Homo sapiens: one gene and its partners. The protein of the gene in region 1 purifies or fractionates together with the protein of each later gene. This does not show direct contact. Each region holds a gene or a part of one and is shown on either strand. Other genes may lie near its edges.

What was found.
Region 2: the proteins of CA10 (region 1) and CALCOCO1 purify together in Homo sapiens (affinity purification with mass spectrometry; 4 studies listed by BioGRID and IntAct, with this or other methods). This does not show direct contact.
Region 3: the proteins of CA10 (region 1) and PIAS4 purify together in Homo sapiens (affinity purification with mass spectrometry; 3 studies listed by BioGRID and IntAct, with this or other methods). This does not show direct contact.
Region 4: the proteins of CA10 (region 1) and IMPACT purify together in Homo sapiens (affinity purification with mass spectrometry; 3 studies listed by BioGRID and IntAct, with this or other methods). This does not show direct contact.
Region 5: the proteins of CA10 (region 1) and CLSTN1 purify together in Homo sapiens (co-immunoprecipitation; 2 studies listed by BioGRID and IntAct, with this or other methods). This does not show direct contact.
Region 6: the proteins of CA10 (region 1) and PPRC1 purify together in Homo sapiens (affinity purification with mass spectrometry; 3 studies listed by BioGRID and IntAct, with this or other methods). This does not show direct contact.
Region 7: the proteins of CA10 (region 1) and CERCAM purify together in Homo sapiens (co-immunoprecipitation; 2 studies listed by BioGRID and IntAct, with this or other methods). This does not show direct contact.

The regions. Positions count from the first base shown.
Region 1 is NC_000017.11:51,634,215-51,637,714, reverse strand, and holds part of CA10 (carbonic anhydrase-related protein 10 precursor), read left to right. Parts: intron 1-1,705; coding exon 1,706-1,860; intron 1,861-3,500. UniProt on the Homo sapiens protein: Does not have a catalytic activity.
Region 2 is NC_000012.12:53,710,453-53,713,952, forward strand, and holds part of CALCOCO1 (calcium-binding and coiled-coil domain-containing protein 1), read right to left. Parts: intron 3,449-3,500; coding exon 3,249-3,448; intron 2,755-3,248; coding exon 2,648-2,754; intron 2,395-2,647; coding exon of another isoform or gene 2,323-2,394; intron 1,670-2,322; coding exon 1,492-1,669; 3' UTR 1-1,491. UniProt on the Homo sapiens protein: Functions as a coactivator for aryl hydrocarbon and nuclear receptors (NR). Recruited to promoters through its contact with the N-terminal basic helix-loop-helix-Per-Arnt-Sim (PAS) domain of transcription factors or coactivators, such as NCOA2.
Region 3 is NC_000019.10:4,010,736-4,014,235, reverse strand, and holds part of PIAS4 (E3 SUMO-protein ligase PIAS4), read right to left. Parts: intron 1,314-3,500; coding exon 887-1,313; intron 1-886.
Region 4 is NC_000018.10:24,436,670-24,440,169, reverse strand, and holds part of IMPACT (protein IMPACT), read right to left. Parts: intron 2,216-3,500; coding exon 2,130-2,215; intron 1-2,129. UniProt on the Homo sapiens protein: Translational regulator that ensures constant high levels of translation upon a variety of stress conditions, such as amino acid starvation, UV-C irradiation, proteasome inhibitor treatment and glucose deprivation.
Region 5 is NC_000001.11:9,743,966-9,747,465, forward strand, and holds part of CLSTN1 (calsyntenin-1 isoform 1 precursor), read right to left. Parts: intron 679-3,500; coding exon 430-678; intron 41-429; coding exon 1-40. UniProt on the Homo sapiens protein: Postsynaptic adhesion molecule that binds to presynaptic neurexins to mediate both excitatory and inhibitory synapse formation.
Region 6 is NC_000010.11:102,136,040-102,139,539, reverse strand, and holds part of PPRC1 (peroxisome proliferator-activated receptor gamma coactivator-related protein 1), read right to left. Parts: intron 1,691-3,500; coding exon 1,502-1,690; intron 922-1,501; coding exon 775-921; intron 662-774; coding exon 560-661; intron 441-559; coding exon 1-440. UniProt on the Homo sapiens protein: Acts as a coactivator during transcriptional activation of nuclear genes related to mitochondrial biogenesis and cell growth. Involved in the transcription coactivation of CREB and NRF1 target genes.
Region 7 is NC_000009.12:128,430,857-128,434,351, reverse strand, and holds part of CERCAM (inactive glycosyltransferase 25 family member 3 isoform a precursor), read right to left. Parts: intron 3,182-3,495; coding exon 3,049-3,181; intron 251-3,048; coding exon 123-250; intron 1-122. UniProt on the Homo sapiens protein: Probable cell adhesion protein involved in leukocyte transmigration across the blood-brain barrier. Does not express any beta-galactosyltransferase activity in vitro.

The DNA of each region.
Region 1 (3,500 bases):
CTTGTCAGTGGAGGATGTTACTATCTGCCTGACTCATTTTATTGAGTCAATGTGAGGTTCCAGCCATATGTGAAAGTCTTCCTTTACCATATATGTGCACAATACTAAACTGAAGAGGTTCCCTCAACCCCTGAAGAATGAGTACTTTCCCACTGGGAGTTAGACACATGGACGAGAGAACATGTGTGCATCCATGGGGCTGGAGAGTCAGTCTCATCCCTCGGCCAGCCAGGCTTTGGGACCCTGCCATGTGTTCTCCAGGTCTCCTGGACTGGCCACAGTGATGGGTGCTCATGGTATGCCTGGGGATGTGATACCTCTAGAGATATAGATCTGGAATCACTGGGATGCAGAAGGCAAGTGAAGCCATGGATGTAGATGAGCTACTCTCAGATGAGAGGATAGAGTAAGAAAAGAAGGGAGCCTTGGACTGATCTTTGGGGAATTGCATCATTGAGAGAAGCAGGTAGAAGATCAGGAGACAGCAACAAAACCTGAGAGAGAATGGCCAGAAAAATGGGAATACTAAGTATGGTATTTTTGAAGCCAGCAGAAGAGAACAATCACGTGCTAAAAGAAAGGAAGAAGGATCATGAAGAGGGGAGAAGAGGAGAGATACATTGCAATTAACTGATATTTTAAAACTCCAATACACACAATTTTATCAAAAATACAACCAATACATTGACTAAAAAAATTAACAGGAAACACACCAAAATGCTAATAGTAACAGTTTTAGATGACTGAAATTGTTTTTTCTTTTTTCCATATAGTCTGTGATGTACTTATGTCATTTTTACCATTGAATTACTGTATTTAGTAATAGAAGATATATGGGTATGAATACCTCAAATTGGTGTAAGAGAAAAGGCTATCTGCATAGACCTGAGAGAGAGAAAAATACACACACACACACACACACACACACACACACACACAAAATAATCAGTTGTTGAGCTTAACCATAGAATCTCATGGTAGGATTTGGCCTGATTTACTTTTCTATCCAAAAATATTTTCTTATTGTTGTTTTAAGTGAGAATGGTCACCAGGTGAATTTCAACAGGTCTAGAAGCTTTAATTGTCCATCTCATGATACCTGTAATGCCTAGGAGTCCAGATCTCAGGGACTAGAATCAAGGACTCCTCAAACAATCCCTGTGGTAGAACGCATTGCTTACAGCTCACCAATGCTCAGGGCCCCATCCTGTGGAAGGAATGTGCTTCCTCGCATCCCCAACATCAGCCTTAACCATGTGACTTCTTTGGCTACCAAAACATGAGCACAAGTGATGTGTGCCACTTCTGGGATGGAAGTTTTAAGAACCAACACACATTCGCCATGCTTTCGCTTCTGTCACTGTGATCCGCACAGGTCCAGGTGTTTACTGCTCTAAGAGTCTAGGTCCCAAAGCATGGACAATGACATGGAGGGAAGCCTCAGCCAACCTGGAATGATCATGTGTGTGAGCAAGAAATACATTCTTATTGCTTAAAACAACCGAGATCTGGGGGACAACTGCTTGTTACTGCAGCCTGTTCTGACAGATAGAGTCTTCTGGAATTCCAAAAGAAATACATATATATCTGTGTGTGTATATATGTATGTATATGTATATGTATATGTATGTATGTATGTATGTATGTCAGCAATACCATCCCTTTCTCAAGAAACCTAATTTTTAAGTCTTCTTTCCTTCTCTAGATGATGCATATTTACTACAGGGGCTTAATATAGAGGAACTATATCCAGAGACCTCTAGTTTCATCACTTACGATGGGTCGATGACTATCCCACCCTGCTATGAGACAGCAAGTTGGATCATAATGAACAAACCTGTCTATATAACCAGGATGCAGGTGAGTTTCTCTCTGGTCATTTAGCTAATGGAGAAGAATGATGTTAAAAAAAAATCACTGAAATGTGGAGTGCCTATTATAATAGTTTACTAGGACCACTATAACAAAGTCCCACAAACTGGGTAGTTTAAACTAACACAAACTTATCGCCTCACAGTTCTGGAGACTAGAAGTCCAAGATCAAGGTGTCAGCAGCGTTGCTTCCTTCAGCGGAATGTGAGGAAGAATCTGTTCCATGCCTCTCCCCTAGCTTCTAGTGGTTTGCTGACAATCTTTGACGTGCTTTGGCATTTAAAAGCACCACCCCAAGCTCTACCTCCATCTTTTTTTTTTTCTTTTTTGAGATGGAGTCTCGCTCTTGTCACCCAGGCTGGAGTGCAGTGGCGTGATCTTGGCTCACTGCAACTTCCACCTCCTGGGTTCAAGCGATTCTTGTGCCTCAGCCTCCTGAGTAGCTGGGATTACAGACACGTGCCACCACGCCCGGCTAATTTTTATACTTTTAGTAGAGATGGGGTTTCATCATGTTGGCCAGGCTGGTCTTGAACTCCTGACCTCAGGTAATCCATTTGCCTCGACCTCCCAAAGTGCTGGGATTACAGGCGTGAGCCACCACACCCAGCCTCTACCTCCATCTTTATAAGGTGTTCTCCCTGTGTCTGAGGCTCTGTGTCCAAATTTCCCCTTTTTATAAAGGCACCTTCTGTATTCCATTAAAGCCTAACCCCAATAAGCTTGTCTTAGCTCATTCCATCTGCAATGACTATTTCCAAATAAGGTCACATTCTGAGCAACTAGGGGTTACCAGTACCTTCAGCTTATGAATTTCAGGGGTACACGATTCAACCCATATGCCTGGGTTTAAAGAGCCAGCATCCAAAAGGCTTAGCCTGAGCTAATTATAGAAGCATCTCAACTGTCTCAGTGGGAAAAGATAGCCATTAATTCCCAGAGTGTATTCTACAACTACAGTGTTCAGAAAGCAAGCAAGCAAAATGGAAGATGTCATTATGCATTTGAAAAAGTTGGGTTTTAAAAAGTTAAATAGATTCCATTGTTGAAGGATTTCTGGGGTCCTTCTTAAATGCTAATATATGTGTCAGTCTTCAAGAGGAAGTGGTATGATATGTAGTATTTTGCACACATATTTGAATGTGCAGTGTTTTTTTTGGATCATCTCACAGAGTTAGTACTCATCAGAACTGGATGGGAGGCAGATGGGTCCTCCTGTGTGAGCTTGGCTACACGGCTTATTGTGCTCTTCAGGCCTGTCACCCACCTCTATGAAATGAACACTCCTCTTCTTTATTGAGAGGGGGATAAATTACATGAGTTTGCTCCAGCTCTGACATTCTACGACTGTGGGAGTCTATAACAAATTAAAGGAGAGATGAGCAAAGGAAGCAGAAGCCAATATCCTTGACGGGATATGTGTTCCCACCTGACCACCATTTGAACAATTTGAAGTTCCTTAACCTATCTGTATTGAATGGGACCCACTGGGTGACAGGCAACAGTAACTCCCCACTTAAGCTTAGAAAAAGCATTTATTTGAGAGCTACGAGGGCATCTTAGAGAATTTAAAATCAGAAATTGACATCAGAAATTCACTGAAATGGGAACCCCAGAAGTGCTTTCTC
Region 2 (3,500 bases), on another chromosome or scaffold:
CATGTGCTTGTGCAGGCCATTGCTGAGAGCCTTGGTGAGCGTGCAGGTCCTTAACAAATGCTTTACGATGCTGTGTATGTGTCTGTCTAGCCTGTGAAGCTGGTTAGAGTGGATGAATGTGTTTTTGTGACTGTTGAGGCAGAGTGTGCATACAGGTATGAGGGGATGGCAACAGAGAAAGAAACAGAAACAGAAACAGGAGGAATATAAAATCGCCTTTAGAGGTATGAGGCTTAGGGCATTTTTTACTAAGTAGATACTCAAAGGTGTACGCTCTTGACAGGAATAAAGCCTGTCCTTTGGCATAAGGTACAGTGATGGCTGCTATGAAGGGTGAAGTTCTCGGCAGTGGGAAACTTGTCCCACTTTTCCATGGCATGCACCCACCCTGGGACTAAACCCTGAGCAGAAGTGACAGGGACCCATGAGTTTGCTCCCTCCCCAACTGCCGCATTATCCAAGCCAGACTCCCACTTGAGACAACCCACTCATGGCCAGCACACCAGGAGGCACGACAGGACAGTAACTGCCCAGCATCCCCTGCCATGAGGCAGGGATGCGTCCCCTCTTTCCCTCCTCCCTCCACCAGGGTCTAAGAGCTGGAGGTCTGGGCCCTGTGTTCCAGTCACACCTCATGATAAGAACACATTTTGTGACAACAGTCATACATATCATATAAATATATTTGTTCAAACTACAAAGGGATGGATATCAGGGGGAAGCTTTTATTGCTGTGGGGGGACCTGGAGAGGGAGGGGGGCCTTGGAAATGGGGATACCTGGGACCACTTGTTCCCCCCATTCCTCACAGAAGGCACAAATACATTATTTCTTTCCATGTGAGGAGATGCGAGGAGAGGATACAGAATACAGGAATCCTCAAAAATACAAAAAACCCCTCCAAACTGAATACCTAAGGTTATGGAAAAGGCTAGGGTGGGGCACAGAAGTCAATGGGGGAACAGAAAGAGGAACCAATGAAACTGAGAACCAAAAGGGACCTGAGAGGCCATGATGTCCATGCTGCTGCCTCTGTGCAGACCCCAGAGAAAACTCAGGTAAACCAACGGAAACTCCAAATAAGAGAGGGTAGGGTGCCCCAGGAATTGGCTTTGGGGCATCAGACAAGGGAGTGTGAGTGTGAGTGTGTGTGTGCAGTGGCTGTGTATCAGAAGCAACCAGGGCTAGGAGTGGACGATTCTATTCCCACAGGGGAAGGCCTCCTCCATCCCGGTTCCTCCAAAACCACTTTCAGGGGATAAATTCAGCCACTGCTTCCGAACAGGACCCCTCCCTGGGACAAAAGAGCCAGGTAGGAGAGGATGAAGTGAGAAATCTTGGGATGAAAACAGGGCACACAGAAGCAGTTCTTAGGGAACAGAATATCATGGAGCCCAGTGTGATAGAAAATGGGCATGAAACCTAAGTGTATGCATGTGTGTGAGTGTGTGTGTGCATGAGTGTGTATTTGTGCATGTACGAGGGAGTAAGATCACTCAAAGGTGAAGGGGTCCTGGGTGCTGAAAAAGAAGTGTCCATCCATGTGGTCCTCCAGGGCATCCTTGTCACTCTCAGCAGGAAAGCGCTCCTTACAGATAGGACACTCCTTCCATGTGGGGGTGGCAGGGCCCCCAGTGCTGGTTTCTGACAGGGTACCCACTGTAAAGCCACTAAGAGAGACAGAGGGGAAAGGGAGAGGGTCGGCGTGCTCTGTTCCCTTCTTGACTTGCAGACTTCGGAGAGCAGGACCCATGTGCCTGGGTTCCCAGGTTATCCTGTGCCTAATGCAGCATCCTGGCCTCTCCCACAGCGTCTTTCTCCCCACAATCCTGGAAGGCTTATTTTTCCAGTTCCCCATGTCCTCTCTTCTTTAGTCCCTGCTGGTCTCTGCAGTGCAGAGCCCATCCCCCAGCCTCCTGCTCTCCTCCCTCCATCTCCGTCTGCTGCCTAATGAGGCTGAAAATGAGTCTGACATCGTCCTTCATCTTCCTGCTCCAGCCGAGAAGGATGACAGCATCACCCCCTCCCTGCCCTGAGCCCATCTCACATCCAGGCAAAACCGGGACTAGATGATCAAATCTCTCTTCCCTGTGCCTGCCCCCTTGAACCTGGGAATAAAAGGGAAGGCAGAAGGGGACAATCTGATACCTGAAACCCCCACCTCTATAGGTTCCCTTCCCTAAGGGTTACCCAGGGAAGTCAGGGAAGAGGGAAAGCATTTCAGTTGTAGCCAGATGGATGCTGGATCCCAGTCTTCTCTCTGCTCCTATCCCTGGGGGCCATGGTCACCTCCCTTCCTCCCCGGAGGACCCTAGGTACCTACCTGGTGGTTGGGGAAGGGGTAGAGGCAGGAGAGAGGGGAAGCAGGGCAATTTGGGCTCTGCAGAAGATGGTGCTAGAACAACATAGAAGCCAGTTAAAGGCAGGACCTCTGAGTGCATTGATAAGATAGGGGTAGGGATTACCTGAAGGCATCTGGGATTTGGAGCAGTGAGTCATTTTCCTTGTTAACCATACCTGTATCTCCTTTTCTTGGCTGAGGCCAAGAAGGGCAGGGGTTGGGAGCAGGGCCTGGTGACTGTCCACACAGATGCCCTTTCCCTCTGACCTCCTCCCACCTCCCTCCTGGCCTTGCTGGTTGAACTCACCTGGCCATGTCATAGAAGGCACTGCCCAGTTCAGGAAGCAGTAAGTTGGCCTCCTCACCCCCACTCTGCACAGCTGCCATCAGGACTGACTTCTCATCTTCAGCCTCCTGGATGCCAAAGAGACAGGGTTGGGCTTTGGGGTGGTGTCCCAAGATGGGGGAGCAGCACATTGGGACAGGTATGGGAAGAGCAGCCAAGGCTAGGACAGTGACCTGAGGGGCTTAGGAAGAGTGAGGCAGGAGAGGCGTTTTGAGGGGCTGGTGAATAATAAGAGAATGACTGTGGGGGAGAAGCAGTGAGGCTATTGGGCTGGTCTGGGTTTTGGGATGATATCTACTGGTGTGGCACTGAAGAGAGGCTGGGCCTGCCTCCTCTCCCCTGGGAAAAAGAGAGCCCTGGATAGCTAAGATTCCTTCTCTAATTAGCCGGGGGTGCCTGCCTGTGGTCCCAGCTACTCTTGGGAGACTGAGGTGGGAGGATCGCTTCAGCCCAGGAGGCAGAGGCTGCAGTGAGCCAAGATCGTGCTGCACTCCAGGCTGGGACACTTGGGTTTGGCCCTGCCCCTCCTTACTGCTTCTGCACAGGCTCCTCCACTGCTCACCGAGTCAGAGCTACTGTCCTCAGCTGGCCCAGAGAGGTGAGGAGAAATGGGAGCCGGCTGGCTGATGACAACAAGGGGAGAAGCCTCTCGAGGCCCAGCAGGAGAGGAGCCTGGGTCTCCACGCTCACAAAGGCCATAGGGTGGGAGCCTCATGTCTTCTGGGGACTCGTCCTCTGAGTCTGTCAGAGCTGCCGGGCAGCCTGTAGGAGATGAAGCAGGCAGAGAAGAAAAAAGGATGTGTTGTGAGGAGTT
Region 3 (3,500 bases), on another chromosome or scaffold:
TCAGTGCTTGCAGACAAAGACACGAGAGAGAGAAGCGTGGAGCCCAGCACCTCTCCTCCGCCTGGGATCGCCCTGAACCCCCAGCACGCCCGGTGCACACAGCCTGGCAGTGACCTGAGCCCACTGACCAAGGACACTCCTGCAGGCTGCCAGCGAGGAACCAGAGCCCGGGGGAAGGATGCCACTGGCCAGCCCCCTTTCCAAGGGGAATAAGCAGGGAAACCAGGCTCCCAGGTGGCCCTGGTCACCCCTGGCCCTGGCAGTCACAGCCTGGTGTGGTCCCTGCATGCGCCACAGAGTCTGTGTGAGCAACGGACTCTGTGGGGGAGATGGCGAGGCGTGTCCGAGGTTGGGTTATAAAAAGGGCTCCAGCTCCCAGCTTGGAGGTGCACACTCGCTACCCTAGGGTGAGGGAGCCACCAGGCTGAGGACGCCCAGGCAATCCGTGCAGGAGTCCGCACCATGAGGACCTGGGGACTGTGGCCAAGAGCTGGCGAGGAGCTGAGGCCTGCCAGCCACCACACAAGGATGTGCCTGCTCCAGCCCTGGTCGAGCCTCCAGATGAGGTGGCTCCAGCCTGACTGAGCCTCATGAGAGCCCCCAAGCCCCAATGCCCCGCAACACAGCTCACAGGTTCCTGAGAGCTAACAGACGCCCCCTGCTTCCAGTGGCTCCATTTCGGGGTAACTTGTAACACAGCAAGGGGTGACCAATATCAAAGATGGTCCCTTTGCTTCCGAGGAAGGACACCCCTGGCCACTGTGGCTCCCCGCCCTGGCTGCGCCACAGAGAACATCACTCGAAGTCGGCTGTGTGGCTGGGCTGGGCTGGGCGACGGGGCCTAGGTGAAGCCTCCAGTCGCAGCCTCCCCAGGGTGACCACTCACCTAATTCGGTGGGCTTCAGCAGCTCATCCAGCATATTAAAGAACGGCAGCTTCACCAGGCGGACTTCTGGCTTGAGGGTCTTGGCGGGCAACCGTCCCAGTCCGTTTAAGTACTTTCCGTAGAGCACGGGGTAGTCAATATTGGGGCCTGCCAGCGGAGTCCTGGGCACAGCGCCGGCCCGGTCGTAGGTGGAGTGCATGGTCAGGGGGTCCAGGGGCCGGTGCGGCTGTGGGGCAGGCTCCGAGTTCTTCTTGGCGTAGCGGGTCTCGTACAGCTCCTTGATCTTCTTGAACAGCTCAGGGCTACAGTCAAACTGCACCAGCTGGAGGGCCCTGGTGACGAGCTCGTGCTTCAGTCCACTCTTACTCCGGCCCACGAAACCCAGGAGCATCTGAAGGTCGGAGACTCGAAAACTCATCACCATGTTCTGAGGAGGAGCAAGCACACACACACTCAGAGGACACAGCTGCGAGGCAGGGGACTCCATGGAGGCCAGGCCCCGATGTGGGGGCCGTGAAAGACACCCACTCGCCAGGAAGCGCCAGCCTTGGCTGGGGCTGGTGGAGTGCCCTGCCCCTACGGTGCCCCCTCCCAGCAAAGCCCTGCCCCCTCCCTCCTCCTCATCAAACTTTCCCCAGCATCGCCAACGCAGCAAAAGCGCCTCTGACTAGGCCCCCCCTTCTATTTTAGGTTCTCTTTCCCTGTCTTCAGCCTGAAAGCATCCCCAGGGCAGGAACTGACAATTGTGCTTTACTTGTAAACAGCCTCTGCCAGTGCCTTACCGGCAAACACCAAATGCCTCTCTGACCCTCAGTCTCTACGTCGGGAGGATAATGACATAAAGCACTGGCTGGGCGGGCGCTCAACCCATGTCAGCCACAGATATGTTTTCCCTTCGGTCTCGCCAACGGTAGCCACAGTTTACTTAGTACTAATCACCTGCCGGGAACCAAGCCGGTCATGTGATTATATATTTAACTCTGATCCTTAAAACACCCCTGCTAGGCTGGTGTGTGAGCTCTGTCACAAATGAGGAACTGTCGGCTCAGAGGTGGCAGCGCCAAGATTCGAACCCAGGCCTGGCTCTGAAGCCAGGGGCGGTTCTTGCTGCCACACTACCCTCTGGATGTCAACACAGGGCTGGGCCTGTGGGGGCCTCCGAAACATCTGCTGATCATCCCAGGCAGGGTTTCTCCTCCTTGGCCCTGTGGACACTGGGGCCATCCTGGGCTCTGTGTGGTGCTAAATACCCACAGCTCACGACAACCAAACACACCTCCACACCCCACACACCTCCACACCCCACACACCTCCACACCCCACACACCTCCACACCCCACACACCTCCACACCCCACACACCTCCACACCCCACACACCTCCACACCCCACACACCTCCACACCCCACACACCTCCACACCCCACACACCTCCACACCCCACACACCTCCACACCCCCCACACCTCCACACCCCACAGCTCCACACCAAACACACCTCCACACCCCACACACCTCCACACCCCACACACCTCCACACCCCACACACCTCCACACCCCACACACCTCCACACCCCACACACCTCCACACCCCACACACCTCCACACCCCACACACCTCCACACCCCACACACCTCCACACCCCACACACCTCCACACCCCACACACCTCCACACCCCCCACACCTCCACACCAAACACACCTCCACACCAAACACACCTCCACACGTTGCCCTGAGTCCCTGGGGGACCGGTCCAAGGGGAAGATAGCAGCCACAGGGGCTGTTGCAGGACCTGGGTCAAAGCGACAAATGAGGCTTGGCAGGACCTGGCCCTCATCGCCTGGCCGGGCCTCTCCAGCGAAATAAAAACCAAACAGCAGAGCCCAGCTGACCCTGGTGTTTGAGGTGGGGTAGACTGGCAGTGGCCTGACCTCCATGAGGGGTAGGACCCTGAAGGGGAAGGAAGGCTCCTCAACAGGCTGCAGAAGCCAGGTGTCCTCGAGGGATGGGCTGGCAGGGTTTCAGGGCCACCCACCCTTAGCCCTGAAGCTGGCCTGGGATGAATGAGATGTGGTGGGAAACAGTAGCTTCCAGGAGGAATGGGGAGAAAGCTCAAGCGTCAAGGGTGTTAAGGAAAGCTGGCGGGTACCCGAAGAAACCAATAAACCATTCAAACTCCACTCGAAAGACCCTGAGGGTCGAAGCCAGAGGCAGTCCCAGTGGGGTATGTAAACTGCAGCCTCCGTGCCAGGAGGCGCTGAGGTTTCCGGCTCCTGGCTGCCCCAGGGTGAGACCAGGAGCCTAGCCGCACATTTCAGCACCAAAGCTGCAGCAGCCGGGGCCCACTGTCGGGTCCTCATCTGTCAGCTCTGATTTCTTCCAGCTGTATCGGGCCAGGGTCCTGTTGGAGACGGAGAGGCTGTCCAGGCTCAAAATGACAGGGACACACGTGCAGGCGGCCCAGCCCTGCCCAAAGAGCCTCGGGAGAAGCCTCTTCCCATATCAGGGCTGCGGGGCCCCGTGACTGTAAAGAATCGGGATGCCAGCGTCTTGCTCCCTACCAGGCACCAGCAAGGCCTGTGTCGCTAATTTCACAATGAGGACACCCATCGTGTA
Region 4 (3,500 bases), on another chromosome or scaffold:
CCATGGACTGAAATAATATACATGAGTCCATACTGATATAAATAATAAACAGATAAATAAATACATAAATGGGAAGAGACATCCCTTCCTCATAATAGAATTCCAATTACTAAATGAGGAAGGAATGAAGAAAATAGAAAATCATCATCAGGCAAACACCACAGTAATAAATATTGTTGACAAGTTCCATGGATAGATACTAAAATTAGTGGCAGAAAGTTTAAGGAGAAACAGGATATTAGCATAGCTTCAAAGTATCTCCCTCAAGCTACAAAGAGAAAGACAGTGACTGCAATGGTTAATCTTACATGTCAACTTGTCTAGGCCACAGTACCCATATATTTGTTTACTTTTGTTTGACACAGAGTCTCATTCCGTCACCCAAGCTGGAGTGCAGTGGCACCATCTCAGCTCGCTGCAACCTCCGCCTCCCAGGTTCAAGTGATTCTCCTGCCTCAGCCTCCCAAGTAGCTGCAATTACAGGTGCGTACCACCACGCCTGGCTAATTCTTTTTTTTTTTTTTTTTTTTTTTGAGCCGGAGTCTCGCTCTGTCGCCCAGGCTGGAGTGCAGTGGCGCGATCTCGGCTCACTGCAGGCTCCGCCTCCCGGGTTCACGCCATTCTCCTGCCTCAGCCTCCCGAGTAGCTGGGACTACAGGCACCCGCCACCGCGCCCGGCTAATTTTTTGTATTTTTAGTACAGACGGGGTTTCATCGTGTTAGCCAGAATGGTTTCGATCTCCTGACCTCGTGATCCGCCCGCCTCGGCCTCCCAACGTGCTGGGTAATTCTTGTATTTTTAGTAGAGACGGGGTTTCACCATGTTGGCCAGGCTGGTCCTGAACTCCTGACCTTAGGTGATCCACCCACCTCGGCCTCCCAAAGTGCTGGGATTATAGGTGCAAGCCACTGTGCCCAGCCTCAATACCCATATATTTGGTTAAACACTATTTTAGATTTTTCTCTGAAGGTATTTTTTGGATGAGATTAACAATTAAGTCAGTTGAATTTGAGTAAAGCAGACTGTCTTCCATATGGGCCTCATCCAATCAGCTGATGGCCTTAACATTAAAAGACTGACCTCCCCAGAAGAGGACATTTTTCCAGCAGACCATCTTTGTTTTCAAACCGCAACATTCATTCTTCCCTGGGTCCCCAGCCTGCCAGCCTATCCTGCAAATTTTGGACTTGCCACCTTCCACAACTGTATAAGCCAATTTCTTAAAATATATTTCTCTCTCTTTGTGTGTGGGTACATACACACATGTATATACACACATATATTCAATTGGTTCTGTTTCTCTGGAGAACCCTGACTACAGCATTTACAGTGGAGACATTTGGCGAACACCACCGTAACCGAGACATCAAGGTAAATATCACCAATAATAAGGCATATGATACAATAGGCACAGTGACTCACACCTGTAATCCAAGCACTTTGGGAGATCAAGGCAGGAGGATCACTTGAGCTTAGGAGTTTGAGATCAGCCTGGGCAACATAGGGAGACCTCGTCTGTAGAAAAAATTTTAAAAGTAGCTGGGAGTACACCACCACTCCCAGCTACTAATCTCACTCCAATCATGAGAAAACAATGGACAAACCCAAATTGAGGGGCATTCTACAAAATAACTATCAGTAGTCTTCATAAGTGTCAAGGTTATAAGTCAAGGAAACACTGAACAACTGTTTACAGACTAAAGGAGAGTAAAGAGAAACAACAATGGAAAGCAATGTAGAATCCTAGACAAGACCCTAGACAGAATGGGACAGCCCAAGGTTTCATAACATTTTCAGAATGGCACACAATTTAAAACTTATGAATTATTTCTGGAAATTTCCATTTAATATTTTCAGACAACAGGTGACCACAGGTAACTGAAACCATGGAAAGCCAAATCTCAGATGAGGAGGAATACTGTAATACAAAATCAAAGAGGCTAAACCTTATAGAAATAAATAACTATAATTACATGAGCAATTAAACTTTTCAGAGAAACTTGTATTTTATAATATACAAACCATAAACCAGAATACAGATTTTCACATTAAATTTCAACTAGAGTATCTACATAAAAATGTAGTTATTATAAGTTAAAAGAGTATTGATAGTATTTTTCAATCCTACCTGGTTCTGTCATCTGAGATTTTTGTATAAGAACATCTCTTATTTTCTCCACCCACAGGTAAAGAATACTTTCACCGATATTCTGACTAAACAAAATTCAGGGGAAAAAAAAAATTGTTATTTCAAAAATCATCTTCTCAAATTCAAGAAGATACAGACATTTGCAATCCAAGACATTATAAACAATCTAACCATTTCTTTTTTAAAATAATTTATAAAAACCTGGGGTTTATCAACATTTGTGTCTGAGTAGTTAATACAGGTTATAGCAACGTTAAAAATTCCAGTTGACTCCAAAATTAACATGGCTTACTTTAAAATAAGCAGAAGAGCTGTAACCAAAGAGGGGAATAAACATTTCCAAACTAGATGGATTAAAGAAATATAAATGTGACTTAGTTTCTGTAAGTGGATACAATCTTTCAGTATCGATGTCTGATCACTGCTTGCTTTTTTAAAGTTTTTTAAGAATTTCAAACCCCTTATTTGGTACACTTATCATTTAGTATACTTATCTCAACAAGAAAGAATGTAAAGCATATGGGAAACTCCTTCAGGGAGTCAATTTACAAGACCTAAAAGACAATTCAACAATTTTATATTCATATCTTGTTTCTGACAAAACATTCTATTGCCTAAATTGATTCATTTTGGTTCCAAATGATGTTTGGTTGCCTCAGGTAACTAAATCCATCTCAAAGGATCACTGAGAAAAAGAATGTGTCACAGGTTTTAAAGTCATGTCCATAGTTATGTTAAATGATGGTAGCAGCAATAAAATAAAGGCCCAAGTGTCTGCTCTTTAGAAAAAGACACTAATTGTAGTAAGTATGGTATGTGTTTAAAGATATCACCACACTACTATATAGCAACACCTCACCTCCTTCCTCTAAAAGTTTCCCTTGAAACCATTATCTCTCTTTATCACTACTCATCAGCACCCACCAAAACTTTCGAAACAAGAGACAGAAGAAAACAACATTGTTTTTAAATAATTCTATACCCTCAAATCCTCCCCATCACACCCACAATTCCTAGTACTAAAACTAAATACTTGTATTGGTTGATATAACAGTAAAGCTATTCACTAAAATGCACTAAGCTGTGTGAAGTTAAACTAATCACTTGATCTGAGTTTCTGTCACCTAATTTTCAATATTATAAGCTGGATGAGAAGATTTTTGAAATAAGAACATCCCAGAGCCGGGCGTGGTGTAATCAAAACACTTTGGTGGGCCGGGGTGGGCAGATCACTTGAGCTCAAGAGTTCGAGACCAGCCTGGGCAACTTGGCAAAACCCCATCTCTACAAAAAAAATACAAAAATTAGCCAGATGTGGTGGTGCGTGCCTGTAATACCAGCTACTCAGGA
Region 5 (3,500 bases), on another chromosome or scaffold:
CACCCGTGGACATAGAGGGAGTAGTGGTGCCGATTCATATCTGCAAAGGCAGTTTCTATGGGTAAATTGCCAACTAAAGATCCAAAGGAGAAATTAAAGCTGTTTCTTGAATGGATTTTGAAGACACAATTTCATCTGCATAAATGAACTCTTCGGCTAAGCCAAGGCAGGGCTTAGAAACAAATACACTTGGGCTTTCCTGAGAGGCGGAGCCTGTGATCACCGTGGACCCCACTGAGCAACAACAGCTAATACCCAAATGCCCAGGCCGTGGCTCTAGGGAACCAAGTGCCCCAGGCACACAGCATGGCACATGGCCTACGAGCACCAGGCTGGCAGGGGACCCTGGGAAAGGAGAGGGAGCCTGCCGCTGGCACCCACCCTACTGGACACTGGGGCCTGGCATCGCTTGCAGAGCTATTACCCTACCTGTTTTATCAGAACTGCAAAGAATTGTCTCCTTCTTCCTGCCGAATGGCCCATGTCTCATCCACACCGAGATGGTGAACGGCTCTTTGGGGCTGACCGACACGACGCCATCCGGGATCCTCACTGCCTGGGTGCCGTTGAACTCAAACACCTGGTCGCTGTCGTGGCCATTGTCGGTGGGCAGGCCCATGGTCCAGTTGAGGGATCCACTCGGGGATGGCAGCAGCTCGGCAGTGCCCGCGGCCGCACCTGAAGCCACAGTGCTCGGTGAAACTCATGTGAGGAGCCAGAGGTCCCGCGCACCTCAAGCCCCCAGGCACGTGCTTGTCTTACACTTAGGCAATCTGCTGGCTCCAGTTTACTTTTTTTTTTTCTTTCGAGACAGAGTCTTGCTTTGTCCCCAGGCTGGAGTACAGTGGCGCGATCTCGGTTCATTGCAACCTCCACCTCCCGGGTTCAAGCTGTTCTCCTGCCTCAGCCTCCCGAGTAGCTGGGATTACAGGCGCGCCCCATTAAAACTGGCTAATTTTTGCATTTTCAGGAGAGCCGGAGTTTCACCATGTTGGCCAGGCTGGCCTGGAACTCCTGACCTCGTGATCCGCCTGACTCGGCCTCCAAAAGTGCTGGGATTACAGGCGTGAGCCACCACGCTTGGCCCTTTCAGTTTACTTCTCTTCAAAAATCAGGGTTTTAAATTACAAAAATAAAAATAACAACCATGGATTTGTTTAAGGAAGGGAAAGGGCCAGGCGTGAACCCGGGAAGCGGAGCTTGCAGTGAGCCGAGATCGCACCCCTGCACTCCAGCCTGGGCAACAGAGCGAGACTCCGTCTCAAAAAAAAAAAAAAAAAACAAAAAGGAAGGGAAAGGAAGCATTTCTTGTAATCTGATTCAAATTATACCATTTTAGTATAAACACCCAGTCCTCCTTTGGTAAATATACACAAAAATGATGCGTTTTCTTAGAAAAATGGAGTCCTGGCAGGGCTTGGTGGCTCACACCTGTAATCCCAGCACTTTGGGAGGCCAAGGCACACAGATTGCTTGAGCCCAGGAGTTGGAGACCAGCCTGGACAACATGGCAAAACCCTGTCAATACAAAAAACACAAAAATTAGCCAGGTGTGGTGGTGCATCCCTGTAGTCCCAGCTACTTGGGAGGCTGAGATGGGAGGATCACTTGAGCCCAGGAGGTTGAGGCTGCAGTGAGCTGTGACTGTGCCACTATACTCCAGCCTGGGCGAGTGCGACCCTGTCTCAAAAATATATAAACAAATACAATAAAAGTGGAGTCCTGCTATGTATGTGCATAATACATATATATTCCTAGCAATATTCTTCTATCATGTAATTTAAACTATCTGAATAGTTGTTTTTTTTTTTTTTTTTTTTTTGAGACAGGGTCTCCTCTCTCGCCCAGGCTGCAGTGCAGTGGTGCAGCGTTGGTTTACCGCAGCCTTGACCTCCTGAGCTCAAGCAATCCTCCCACCTCAGCCTCCCAAGTAGCTGGGACCACAGGTGTGTGCCACCATGCCCGGCTAATTTTTGTGTTTTTGTAGAGACGGGGTTTCGCCATGTTGTCCAAGCTAGTCTCCAACTACTGGGCTCAAGCGATCCATCTGCCTCAGACTCCCAAAGTGCTGGGATTATAGGTGTGAGCCACCGCGCTCGGCCTGAATAGCATTTCATTGTACAGATACAGCATCACCTACTGACCAGCCTCCCAGGTGGGCACAGAGGCTGTCCCTAACCTTTTCCTATTATAAACCTCACCTGCATGCACAGCTTTATGTGTCTCCATGATTATTCCCTTAAAATAAATTCCTAGAAATGAAATTACTAAGTCAAAAAACATAAAAAATGTTTTCCAACCATTCTTATGTATTGCCATGTTCAAATTAAAAAAATTTTTTTTTGTCCACAGGAAAAGATTTTGCAAGCTCCTTCTTGACTAAGCTATTACTCGGAGCAGCAGGCCTTGGCTGGACCAGCCTGGCCTCTTGAGTAACAGAAGACCTTGGTCCAAATCTTAGCTCCTGAAGCTAGACGTGGTGGCTTGCGCCTGTAATCCCAGAACTTTGAGAGGCTGAGGCAGGCAGATCAACTGAGGTCAAGAGTTCAAACCAGCCTGGCCAATATGGTGAAACTCTGTCTCTACAAAAATACAAAAATGAGCCAGGCATGATGGCAGATGCCTGTAATCTCAGCTACTTGGGAGGCTGAGGTGGGAGAATCACTTAAACACAGGAAGTGGAGGCTGCAGTGAGCCAAGATAGCACGATTGCATTCCAGCCTGGGCGACAGTGAGACTCTGTCTCAAAAGAAAAAAAAAAACCACACACACACACTAGAACCTCAGCTCCTGAATATGTGGGCTTGGGCAAGCTACTTAACCTGCTTTAGTCTCAATTGTTTAATTCCTCTGTAACAAGGTCAATACCCACCTACTTCGTAGACTTGTTGGGAACATTAAGCTAAAACACACATAGAAGTACCTGGAGTAAGGCCAGGCGCAGTGGCTCATGCATATAATCCCAGCACTTTGGGAGGCCGAGGTGGGTGGATCACTTGAGGTCAGGAGTTGGAGACGAGCCTCGCCAACATGGTGAAATCCCATCTCTACTAAACATACAAAAAGTAGCCAGGCATCATGGCACATGCCTGTAATCCCAGCTACTTGGGAGGCCGAGGCAGGAGAATCGCTTGAACCCAGGAGGCAGACGTTGCAGTGAGTGAGATTGCGCCACTGCACTCCAGCCTGGGCGACAGAGGGAGACTGTCTCAAAAAAAAAAAAAAAAAAAAAAAAAAAGTACCTGGTGCATAGTAAGCACTCAAATTATTTCTATTCTTCCTAACTTTATTCTGCTGAAAAAAAATTCACTTAATACCATGAAATGAGAGACGGAATAAATTTTATATATTATACTTACATGCATGGTTTAAAACAGAAAATGTGCCAGACCTCCTTACTTAAATATATTTAGGTGACAATTATGAATATTTGGATTCAGAGTTGCCAAACACCCCCATATGCTCATCATTGGACTGTGGCAGCATAATGTCTAGTTTTC
Region 6 (3,500 bases), on another chromosome or scaffold:
ACGCAGCCCTCAGGCAGTGTCAAATCATCTGGCTGCTCCTGAAGCTCATCCTCAAGTGATGCCAGGTGGGTGAGGTTGGGCAGGCAGTATGGGTGCATGGCCCGCACCAGCTCACTCAGGGAGGAGATGCTCTCATCACCAGCTGCTGGCACTGCCATCTCTGCTGCTGTTGCTTTATCTTCCTCCTCAGGGCAGGCCAAATGCATGGGGAAGTCCGGGATACTGCTCACACAGTTGTCAAGCTCCCCGGCAAGAATCTGGCCACTGAAGCTGGCCACCTCCTCCTCTTCTTCTCCATCACTGCGCTGCTGGGGAGGTGGGGATTGGCCCCAGCGTGGTCTTGATCTTGGGGGTCTCCAGCTAGGAAGCTTGGGGGAAGAGGTCTCTAAGAAAGAGGGTGGGGAGAAGTCCCAAGAGGGATCTGGAAGAGACATTTCAACCTGCAGGAGAGAAGAGAGGTCTCAGGAGGAGTTTTCTTTGGGAAAGTATTTTCCAGACCTGTCCCCACACACTCCTCCTCCCACCTGGGAGTTTCTGAAACCCTCTAGGTCAGGCTTACCCCACTCCCTCTACTGCTGCCTGTACTGGGCCCCAGTGGGTCAACTGGGGTGATGAGGTCACGTTCTGGGGGTGTCCGAGAGAGAGTAAGCAGCTTGTGCAGCTAAGAGGGAAAGAAAGACCTGAGATCAGTCTATGCTTCAGAGCTATATGAGTAGGTCCACAGGCATGGGTCTAAACTTTGTACTAATCCCCTTCCCCTGGTCCCACACTCACAGAGGAGCCCTCCCGGGGTGACACAAGCAGCTCCGAATCAGGAATGCTGTCAAATGGAGAAAGGTTCTCAGAATCTGCATTGTCCAAGATCTCCGTCAGAGCCGTGAGCAGCGACACTTCATTCTGGTCCTCCAGAGATAACCTGCTCTGCTCCAGAAAAACAACCAGAAGGTCCTACCAACATCCCTAATGACCTACTATGCCACTAAGGACTGGATATCGAGAGAATCAGTCTCCCAGGTTCAACTCAGCTAATGGGGCAGCGAGAAGGATCTGAATACCAGAAGGCATGGATTCCAATCTCAGCTACCATCCACCAGCTCTTGGTGTCAACAGAGACCTGTCAGACTTGACTCAAGCTTGGGTTTCACACATTCCCCTACCCTCAGATAAGATGTGGGATGCTCAGCAGACAACCATCGGCTAGGCTAGAAATGAGCTGAAAAACAGAGATCAGAATCCTCTGGACATGTAGTTCAGGGGCCCAGACAGTGGGAAAGGCCTTGGACTATAGTCTAAGCTAGGAAAGGAATTCTTACATGGGACATAATCTGGCAGCCTGCAGCCTAATTCCCACTTAGAGACAAAAAATACACTTCAAGGATTCAGGTTGGGCACCCAGGAAGAAGCTAAGGTCCTGGGAGAGCAGAGCCATGCCAAGAATTTGAGCTAGAACCTCCCATGTAAACCTCCTGCTTGAAGATTTCAGAGTCCAGCCCCAGCTCACCTCTCCAAGGCTCCCAAAATCCTCAATGAGGGAGATAAGGGAGGCATCCATGTAGCTCTGCATGGTCCCCAGCAGTGTCTCATCCTGCAGCATTAGCTCCTCCATTTCCAGGTCCTTGTCCCTCAGAGATGGGCCCAGCCGAGAGAGACTGACAAAGCCAGAATCACCCGCCTCCTCATGCAGCAGCACCTGGAGCAGAGAAGAAGGTGAGAAGGGTATGAGCTCTCTGGCAGCAGCTGATAATATGCTCCATAAATCAGGTACCCTCCACTGCTGGGGCCAAACTCAGCAGCAGCAACACTGTCGCCAAACTTCTGGGCTAGCAGAGCAGAGAGAAGCACAACCTATGAGCAAAAACCCCAATAAGGATGGCAGTTTTCAGGGACCTTCTGGGGCAGAAAAATGTTTGGGCTCCAACCAGAAACAGCTAGAGTCACAGATTAAAACCCGGGAGTAAAAACATCAGGAAAATCAAGATTGTTCAGAATCATCTACTGGCAGCAGTGAAGATAACAGTCTGAGGGGCACACCAAAGCAAAAGAGGTCAGCAAGGAGACAGCTTCAGCTCCAACAACCTCACCTACCTCAAATCCCATTTAGTTCTCTGCTTAGTGCAAATCCTACCTTCTTCAAGAAGACACCCCAGCTTCCCCAGCCCACGGTGATCTCTCCTCACAACTCTAAAATCACAGACTTTTCTGCAGCATTAACTTTTCTGGTAATCACACCCCACCCCCTACCCCCATCCCCATGACACTCATGGGTTCGGTCTCCTGGGTTCAAGCGATTCTCCTGCCTCAGCCTCCGGAGCAGCTGGGATTATAGGCGCCCACCACCACGCCCAGCTAATTTTTGTATTTTTAGTAGAGACAGGGTTTCACCTTATTGGCCAGGCTGGTCTCAAACTCCAAATCTCAAGTAATCCGCCCGACTCAGCCTCTGAAAGTGCTGTGATTACAGGCGTGAGCCGCCACGCCCGGCCGACACTTATTTTGAAGGCCCAACAGTGAGACACTCAACCTCTCAATGGTAATTCCAAGGGAAGGGCCTCTTCTCCACTCCTACCAGATGAGAGCAAGTGAAGAGAAAGCTTGATTCCCTAGATGGAAAGGCCCCGCCCCACACTCCTCTAAGAACTAGCAGCATTTACGGCCTCTCGTGTCAGGCATCAAGCAGCCCGCCCAGACCTGTCAAGAGTGTGGGTGTGGGCAGGGCCGGAAGGGACCAGAATGGTAGTGGTGAGGCCAGAGCCAGGGGGATCTCCACTACAGTAGTCCCCCCTTATCCTAGAGGGATACATTCCAAGATCCCCAGTAGATGCCTGAAACCACAGATACTACCAATACATTGGTATGTATTGATACAAACAATACATACCAACGATGAAGTTTAACTTATAAATTAAGCACAATAAGAAATTAATAATAAAATAGATTAAAACAATATACTATAATAAAAGTTATGCGAATGTGGGCTCTCTGGCTCTCAGAATATCTCACTGTACTGTACTCATGTATTTTTAGACCCCAGTTGACAGCAGGTTAACAGAAACTGTGGATAAGGGGAAACTACCGCATAGGAAACATGAAGTAAAAAGGCCTGAGAACAGGATCACATACAGACAGGCCAGACCTTCCCTTTCCTCTTCTGCAACAAAGTGAAATTCCGCACCACTTCCAAAAGAAAAAAGCAACAGGTGTCTTCCACACCCCCACCCCCCACACCCCGGCAATATATACCCTCCTAACAGAGCTGAGTACCAACGCCCAGGAAAAGGAAAGGCTGGTTAAGGACGCGTTAGGAGGCCAGGCCCAGAGAATAAGCAAAAAGTGGTAGGTTTTAGGCACTAACTCCTCCCAGGCCTTCACAATCCTATAATTACAAACCAGCAGCTGAATAGCACCTGGCTCTGCAAACACTCCAGGGTGAGCCAAGAGGCTGCAACTCCATTTGCTCTGCCACCACCTACCTACCAGAGCCCCAGCGACTAAGCTGGAAT
Region 7 (3,495 bases), on another chromosome or scaffold:
CCCACACCCGCTCCTACAGGGCCAGGCTCTCAGGGGATGGGCCGGCCAGGGTCCCAAGCAGGAAAAGGCAGACTCCGGAGGCCCACCCTGCCCCCTTGTCCCTGAGGGTGCAGGCTGCCTACATCAGGTCCCAAGACAGTTTCTCTGCCTCCACATCCTCCATCAGCCGCTCCAGCCGCCCCCTGAAGTTGCTCTCAAAGCGCACGTCATCCTCAAACACCAGGACCCGGGCCAGGCCCCTGGCAACCACCTGTGGCATACAATGGGGTGGGAGATGGCTCTTCGGAGTTAAACAACCCCCCTCCCTCCACGCTGAAGCTCACAGCCTCTGCCTGGCCTCAGTTGGCCTGGCCACATCATGCAGTTGCCCCAAAGCCTGCTGGGGGCCCCACTGCCTGGGACCGGAAATCCCAACCTCGCTCTGGCATTTGAGGATCTCCAGATAGAATCATGATGGTAACCGTGGCCCTTGCTACATTCCCTGAGTGCTACTGTGCCCCAGGGCTGTGCCACTGCGTATCTGCAGGGGCCCTCAGGAGGCAGGAGATGATGATCCTCAATCGCAGGAAGGAGGTGGACATGCAGGGATGGGAAACTGCCTGTCCAAGGACACACAGCCAGGAAGTGGCAGAGCTGGGATATGAACCCGCATCTGCTGAACACCAGGGCCCAGCTTGTCACTTTGGCCTCCTGCAATTTTCCTTTTTTTTTGAGACGAAGTTTCACTCTTGTTGCCCAGACTGGAGTGAAATGGCCCCCCAAGTCAGGGGGCTGCATGGAAGAGGAGCAGGAACGGTGGAGGCCAAAGCAGCCATGGCCAAGACCAGGAGCCATCTCCCCTCCCACTCCTCCAGCTGCCTGAGTGCAAGCATGACAGATGGTGGCTGGGCCCAGAAGCCCAACTCTCTGGGGGCGGGGAAGTGGCTTGCAGTTCCCATCAAAAGATGGTCTTGGCTCACTGCAACCTCTGCCTCCCGGGTTCAAGTGATTCTCCTGCCTCAGCCTCCCAAGTAGCTGGGATTACAGGTGCCCACCACCACACCGGGCTAATTTTTTTTTTTTTTTTTTTTTTTGAGACGGAGTTTTGCTCTGTCGCCCGGGCTGGAGTGCAGTGGCACAATCTCGGCTCACTGCATGCTCCGCCTCCTGGGTTCACGCCATTCTCCTGCCTCAGCCTCCCGAGTAGCTGGGACTACAGGCGCCGCCACCACGCCTGGCTAATTTTTTTGTATTTTTAGTAGAGACAGGGTTTCACCGTGTTAGCCAGGATGGTCTCGATCTCCTGACCTCGTGATCCACCCGCCTCGGCCTCCCAAAGTGCTGGGATTACAGGCGTGAGCCACGGCGCCCGGCCAACGCCGGGCTAATTTTTGTATTTTTAGTAGAGACGGGGTTTCACCACGTTGGCCAGGCTGGTCTTGAACTCCTGACCTCGTGATCTGTCTGCCTCAGCTGGGATTACAGGCGTGAGCCACCGCACCTGGCCTGGCCTCCTGCTATTTTCTAAAGGAAGCTGGGCTGGGTGGGGGGTGGGAAGACCCCAGCCCCGAATATCCAAAAGAAAAAGTACTTTTGATAACTTTTGGAAAAGTTACTTTAGAATAACTTTTGGAAAACTACTTTTGATAACTTCTGTGAAAAGGAAATCAGCTCAGAAAGTAGTGAAGCCAGGAGCGGTGGCTCATGCCTGTAATTCCAGCACTTTTGGAGGCTGAGGTGGGTGGAATCACTTGAGCTCAGGAGTTTGAGATCAGCCTGGCCAACATGGCGAAACCCTGTCTCTACAAAAAATACAAAATTTAGCTGGGTGTGGTGGTGCGCGCCTGTAGTTTCAGCTCCTCGGGGGTGCTGAGGTGGGATAATTGCTTGAGCCCGGGAGGTCCAGGCTGCAGTGAGCCAAGATCACGCCACTGCACTCCCGCCTGGGTGCCAGAGCAATACCCTGTCTCAAAAAAAAAAAAAAAAAAAAAAGTAGTGAACCATGTCATCCTCCAATTTGTTCAGGGACGGTAAAAAAGCCAACATAGGCTGGGCATGGTGACTCAAGCCTGTAATTCCAGCACTTTGGGAGGCCGAGGTGGGCAGATCACCTGAGGTTGGAAGTTCGAGACCAGCCTGACCAATATGGCGAAACCCCCTGTCTACTAAAAATAGAAAAATTAGCCAGGTGTGGTGGCACATGCCTGTAATCCCAGATACTTGGGAGGCTGAGACAGGAGAACCGCTTCAACCCAGGAGGCAGAGGTTGCAATGAGCCAAGATTGTGCCACTGCACTCCAGTCTGGGTGACAGAGCAATACTCCATCTCAGAAAACAAAACAAAACAAAAACCCATAATGCTCACATACACGTGCACATATATTTGGCTATAGCAGAGAACACAAACAAGGAATCCATGTCCCATCTCCTGGAAGGGCTGCCCTTGGAGGGCCCAGTTCCCATTCTCTCCTGCCGTGTCCAGCAACCTCTTTCCTGCGCTCACACTCCCAGCCCCTGGGCCGAGGCTTCTTGGCCAAGTACTGAGCACATGCTAAGCCCCAGGCTTCCTTCTTTCTGCTCCTAAACACCTTCCTGCCTCAGGGCCTTGGCACCCACTGTTCTCTTCTGCCTAGAAGCCTCTTCTCCCGGCCCCTCAATGGTGAGGTCCATTCTGACCCCCTCCCACACGAGGCACCTCTCAAAGTGGCCCATACCTCTCCCCTCCACTGCAAGCTTGGTTTTGATTTCCATAATCCCGCTCTGGTCCCTGAGCCCCAGGGGGATCCCTTTATTGCAGGAAGGAGCAGACATGCATTGTTCCTGTCCTCCTCTGTGTTCTCAGAGCAGAATATCTCCTAGCACATAGTAGATGCTCAAGAGAGACTGCAGAATGAAAACAAGCACCGCTTAGTGGTGCCCACTGGGGTGTTGAACACAGAGGAGATTGAAAGCTGCTGGCCAGGTTTTGATGAATGTCTTCATTCACTCACTCGTTCACAGAGCAGTGAATAGAACAAACTGGCCCCGTTCTCCCCGAAGGCTGTGGATGGAGGAAGCAGGCACCCTCACCTCTTCCCAGATGGAGTAATGGCTGAGGAAGCAGCCCACCTCGCCCTTGGTCAGAGTGCGGCCCGAGTAAGGGTCCTGGTAGCCCGGGAGCAGGTCTACGCCGAGGTTCCTGATGGCACTGCTGTTGAGCATCCTGAGGGACACAGGTGTGGCGGGGTGAGGGGTGCCTGCCAGAGACCCCTCCAGAGGGGCCAGGCCTGTGCATGTTGGGGACAGTCACACTGGAGTCGGGTTTGAAGAAGGTTTCTGCCTTGTAACTCCTTTGTGTGACCTGAAGCTGTCAAGGGACTGGACCTGGGGAACTGGAGCCCCTGTTGCCCAGGCTGGAGTGCAGTGGCACCATCTCAGCTCACTGAAACCTCTACCTCCCAGGTTCAAGTGATTTTCCTGCCTCAGCCTCACAAGTAGCTGAGATTACAGGTGCCCAGCTAATGTTTTTTTTTTTTT